Linked DNA regions of Homo sapiens: region 2 is linked to region 1. The links come from fine-mapping of genetic effects on gene expression. A gene starts in region 1. The other region holds a variant in brackets. All regions are shown on one strand. Distances are from middle to middle. Region 1 holds the start of SERTAD2 (SERTA domain containing 2). Region 2 overlaps SERTAD2 (SERTA domain containing 2).

Region 1 (2,911 bases):
ATTCTTGTTCACTCCAGAAGTTGGGATCTTAGGATGGATATTTTCATCTTCACAGCACACCCTAGCACACTCATATCAGAATAGACTGCTATAAAAAGGGGGAGGGATGGGAGCTGCCAGGGTGAGACATGCCTTCTGCTGAGCTGAGCAACTACCCCCAACCCCCATCGGCCAAGCAGCCCAGACGCTCTCAGGTGGACGGTCCTTCAGGGGCGGAGCGAAGCCCAAAGCCCACTTCACTCTTGTCAGGGACTAGTCTCTAACTACAAAAAGCTACTGTGAACACTTAGGGCCTCAGGAATCCTGGTGACTACAACTTCTAGCCTCTTTACACACATTATGGATATTTCTTAACATACATTGGGAAATCAAAAAGCGTATTTCATGAACAAAGCTTGAAAACATGTACTCTCTACCCTAAGCCCAACTGAGGCTGCCCAATTCGATTCAAATAAAAACTGCTGTGGTCTGAGGCTGGCTGTCTCACTCTGCTGACTGTCCTCCCCATTCAGTGTCTGTGAAAACTTACTTTCTACCTCCTGAAACGACTCGGCTTGCAAGCAAAAAGTTATTCCAATGCAAACTATACCTGATATTTTCGTGAAACTTAGAAACTAAACCTAAAACTCGACTCCCATCGCAATCTATTACTACCACTTCTGCTAAAGGTAACTTATAGCCAAGAAAACAAAACAAAATACGATTTTCTGTCCATGTAGTGGCCCTGTGACGACACCCCCTCTCTTACTGGTACAAAGTCTAGGGCTTGGGACAGCTGGCTCCCCTCAGCCCCCTCCCTTTCAGTCATAGGCGGTTACCACGAAGATGACTTGTAGATTTCTAACTTAAAAACCAACGAGACGTTAAGTTTAATATACATGTAGATCCCAAATCAATTCATTTGGGCATGGACGAAAGAAAAGAGGGTGGAGAGGAAGGTTTTCAACATTATTAAAAAAAACACCGGGAAATTCACAAAAACGCACTACAGTAAGTTGGATGCAAACCCGGCCACGGAACTCAAAAGTGAAGCAGCCTTCGCGCCAGCAATCCGAGCCTTAAAAAAAGTCTCGCACGTTCACAACAACACAACCGCCACAACGCGCACACACATCCCAGCTGTAGAGGCGACAGCTCCAGGCGCCCCCGCCCGCCGCTCGGCTCTCCGAGCTCCCGACCCCCTCCTGACCCCGGCCCTGCCCCCCAGCGGCTCAGCCCGCAGGCGCCGGGGGTCCGAGAGCGCGGGGCCCGGACCGGGGCCGCGGGAGGGAGCGCTCCTCCCGTACCTGCTCCGTCCCCGGCTCCCTCCCGCGGCGGCGCCCGGCCCCTCCTCCGCCCTCCGGGCTCTCCCAGCCCTGGCCGAGTCCCAACACCGGCCCCCCATCCACCCGGAGCCCCCCGCGCCCGCGGATCCCCTCCAGCCCGACGCCGGGAGAACTTACCACATGCAGCTCCACCTGGGAACTAACGCATCAGGAGGGGTTTCCGCCCACTCCTCAGCTACTCCCGCTCCATGCGGAGTGCCCCGCTCCAGGGGCCCGAGGGTGGCGCCGGGGAGCGGGCAGCAGGCGAGGCTGAAGCTAAGACTCCGCCGTTCTCTGCCTGCGCGCCCCGAGCATTATACAATGGTGGAGGCGGCGGCGGCAGGCAGCGGAGGAGGAAGCAGGAGGCGGGCGGAGGGGGCGCCCTGACCGAGCGAGCGGTACGTCGTGCTCCAGCACTCGCCGTGCAGGAGTGACGTGCGGCCCGCGAGCCTCCCGCGAGCTCCGGGCCCCGGCGCCGCAGGCCCCGCCCCTGGCCGCCCGACCCCGCCCCCGCCGGCCCCGCCCCGGCCCGCCTCTCCCCGGCGGTCCCGGGAGGCGCGATAAAGGCCGGGGCCGGCCGCGGCCGGCCGCGGCCGCAGGAGGAGCAGGAAGGGGCGGCGGGGCGCAGTGGGCGCCTGGTGGCAGCGCCGCCCCCAGCTCCCTGCCGGGCCGGCGCGCCCCTGATTTTCTCGTAAGGACGGGCTGAAAGAGGAGGGGAGACAGAAGGAGACACTCCGGCCCGAGGACCACCACTGCCACTAGTAACGCCCCCTACACACTCTAGAAGTGCTCAGGCGAATGACGAAGCGGCTGGTGACAAAGGCGGCGGCGAGTGCAGCGCGTGCACAGCCCGCGGAGCCGCGCGACCGCAAATATGACAAGCATTTGAGCTATTTGGCAACGTGGGGCCGGTCAGCGGGGCGGGCAGGGTCCCCGCGGGGGGCGAGGGGCAGAGAGCTGGCCCGGGCGCCCGTCTCGCTGCCTGCAGGGGTTCCTGGGCGGGGGTCCGCTGCGGGACACTCCTCCGAGGCCCGCACTGGTCCGAACGGCAGGATGGGGGCTCCAGCCGTGAGCCGGGGACAGAAAAAGTCCCTTGCCCGCGTGGCCTCAGCCCGACACGAGAAGTGGGTCACCAAGTCCACGGCACTTTGGGAGCCGGACCGAACGAGTTGCATCCTTCGGGGCCGGCCGGGGCTCGGTGCAGACCCGGCAGGAGGGAAGCCAAGCTAGGAGACGCAGCCAGGTCGGAGGCGCAGTCCTCTGCCCACAAGTTTCACATTGATAGCCTTTCCCTCCCGTGGAGTAAGCTTATGCTTGGAACTACTTAAATTTACCAGGGAAATTTATACTAGTTGGAAGAGAATGTGTGTATGCCCAAATGGTGAGAATTTAAGAGCACTAGGGAAAGAGGCCAGATAGATGGTTCCACTGGAAAATTAATGATTATTTTAAAAATTACACGTGCATTCAGCGTCAAGATGTAAAAGGCAATGCAGGCAGGCACCTTAAAATTTTGGCTGCCACCCCAATCAATATCATTTCAGATCACTTTGGAGTTTAATGGTCCACTATACTAGTTGTATTTAAGAATAATAAAGCTTTAAGAC
Region 2 (2,911 bases), 21 kb before region 1:
TCCCCACTGGAAGACAGCAGGGGCAGGGTCCAGATGGTATAATCAGTGGGTACACCTGGAGGACGTGCAACAACCACGTGACCCACTGGCATTTTAGAATGTCAACTCCAGCATCAGGGATGGTAGAGAGACGATCACAGCAGGAAGACTAGTCAGGAAACAGGTACGGCGGTCAGAGGCAAGGAGAGAGAAAGGGTCCGAGCTGGGGACGCTATGGTGAGGATGGAGAGGTGGTGGCAGAGGGAATGACATGGCTGGGACTGCGGAACAGGGTGCAAGGGTGGGCAACTGAGCCAAGCGTGGAGCAGAGTGCTGAAGACAACGAGCCCACAGAAGAATCAGCCCCCAGGGGAAACGAGAGCTCTTTAGACGCGCTGAGAGTGAGGGAGCAAATCTTGGTAGATACTGAAGTCTGGAGCTCAGGAGAGAGGCAGGGGCTGGAGACCAGTTTTGAGAGTCCTGAGTGGATTAGATCACCTTGGGAAAGCAAGAGGCAGCAGGAATGGAGGCTCAGTGAAGTGCAGTCATGGGCCAAACCCTGGAAAAGACAATGTTTTAAAGAGAGCTGGGGCACAGATGTGAGAAAAAGGAGGTCCAGAAGGGTCCAAGAAGCAGGAGGAGAACCAGGAGAGAAGGGTGGTTCCTGAGACCAGGACGGTTCAGGAAGACCAACAGCACGCACTCCTTCGGGGCCCCCCTGCTGCTCTCTCTTGCTGGACTTTGCTTAATGTGAGCAAACTGTCACAAATAAGCTGATTGAGCTCCCATCAAAAGAAAACTGCAAGCATGCCTCTCTCATCTTTTAACTGTTTATTGTATAATATAAAACTACAAAAGTAAGACTGCTCATTTCCATGTACATTTAATCTGTCCAATTGTTTAGATTACAGCCCAAACCTACATGTGAATACAGCCATCTGGGTTCCGATGTAACGTCTGTAATATTGCATAGAAAAGGCACAGCTCTCAGGTCTGTGGGGGAAAGGTTATACCTCCTTTTTGACAAAAGCCCTCCTCAAAAACCATGCACCAAACATGTCACTATGTACATCTTTTTTCAAAATCTCGGTCATGCGCACATATGGCCTGCATTTCTCTTCCAAAACTTGTTATCCCCAAAAGAAGTCCAACTTTTTATTGGCTTTGTCTGCAATAGCATTTGATCCTGGCTAATTTTCAAGAACCATTCAGACTCATTCTTAGAAACACTGAAAACAATTGTACATAAGCAGGATGCACACAACTCCATGCCTCCAGGTGCGGGGCAGTTACAGGAAGGTAACCATTTACAGCCAGAAAAGGTTAAATATACTCTTTTCATTGTTTTCAGAAAATGTATAAAGGTCCAATTTGTAACAGCAAGGTTTTCAAATTAAGACAATTCGTATAGAGTAGCAATTGCTGCACGAAGTAGAGT[CT/C]TTTTTTTTTTTTTTTTTACATTTGTCATTTAAGAAGGCTGCCCTGCGGTATTCATAATTCATTGTTTACCACAAAGGTGGTTCATAAATTTAAGCTTTAAAAACGATCTGTAAGTTGATACTTTGGCTCTTTGGAGCTTATTTCATTAAGAAATTTTCCTTGATTGACCTCAGGGCAGCTGGGGCACTCCAAGGGGCTATGGCGATAAAAAGCTCAATTGGTAAAGACACTCGAGAGGTGCAGAGGAGGCTCTGGCCACTGCTCACCCTTTGGTATGAACAAGGGTGCCCATGTGGTTGCTCCTTCTGTCATCCAGAGAAAGTGCTACTAAAAAAACTTTAAAAAATATCAACCCTTTGATGCTTTTCTTAAAAATTTGGAGGTATTAAAACATTCCTCATACCTTTTGCATATTTCAAATAGACCCATATTAGAGAAGAGTAAAAATGAATGCGGACTGTGCATACAATGAGAAGACCTGGGGGCCTGGCTTGGACCCCCTTTTAATACAGATTTACATTCCTACAAGAGAATACATTCCTACCATACATTCTGCACATGTTACGATCCAGATGTTAGCGCTCCACAGTAAAATAAATATATTTACACAGAAAAAAGGAATAAATAACTTATGGGGGGAAAAAAACTCACTTCAAATTCAAAGCTCTTACGATTCTGCTCTCATCTTGTCACTTCATTGCACATCAGTGTCAATAACTGTCCTCTCCCAGCCCCAGCTCGGTTTTCTCGTAAAGGCACCTCAAGCTGCCTGCCTGGCCCTGGATGCCATGTGATGTCTTTCATAAAGGGAAGGCACTGCTGGAAGCACATCCCACACTCAAACTGGGACTTGGAGATCCCACTCCAGCTCCTACTGTTCCCTGTTGGGACATCACTTTGTAAGAATAGGATGCAAAAGCAATTAGAACCCTAGATCATTTTGATCTTTCTGAAAATGGGCTGCTAATTTTCCATGTCTTTCTTGTTAGACTTTGAGTATCAGGGATTTATGGCAACGGTGTCAGAGTTAAAAAGCATTTGCCTGCTGTTTTTGGGGTTTTTGTTTTGATTTTGAAGCCCAGCCTTACAAATACATAAGAGTCAGAGAACCAAGTTTGGGCAACACTTCTCCGTGCTTATTTGAACTGTTGCCCAACATATGGGATTTGTTTAAACACATGATTTGCTAATCCAACAAAAGTACAGTTGTTGTAAGTTACTGTAAATCAGTTTTTAACAATGGCAAACCAACTGTTTTACCCTGTTATTGTTCAGAATCATCAATACTATTGTATATGTGTACGTAGGTAGATGTGTGCAGCATGCGGCAGGTTTGCCAGGTCCTCCAGTTATAGAAAGCATGGAATCTGGGCAGACTTGTTCTCTGCAAGAAAGGGAAGCTCTTAAAATTAACAGGCATACTGACACTGGAAGCATCTACTACAACCCTCACCTCAGTTACATGGTCCCTGGTCCTATTAAAGGAAATGAC

The links. PIP is the estimated chance that this variant, and not a neighbour inherited with it, causes the effect.
Region 2: its variant is fine-mapped to the expression of SERTAD2 in whole blood (INTERVAL, PIP above 0.99).

What each region holds. Positions count from the first base shown.
Region 1 is chr2:64,652,178-64,655,088 of GRCh38, forward strand. It overlaps SERTAD2 (SERTA domain containing 2), which reads right to left and starts at 1,736. Exons shown (of 2, transcript NM_014755.3): 1 at 1,443-1,736. LOC124907776 reads left to right here and starts at 1,894. Exons shown (of 1, transcript XM_047446580.1): 1 at 1,894-2,911. The coding sequence starts at 2,103. The coding sequence ends at 2,534. RefSeq lists silencers at 700-779, 1,080-1,409, 1,518-1,812, 1,550-2,369.
Region 2 is chr2:64,630,826-64,633,736 of GRCh38, forward strand. SERTAD2 (SERTA domain containing 2) reads right to left here. Exons shown (of 2, transcript NM_014755.3): 2 at 796-2,911. Among named protein-coding and RNA genes, the nearest start is that of SERTAD2-AS1, 4.6 kb to the right of the region's middle. The variant CT/C (reference allele first, on the strand shown) is at 1,418.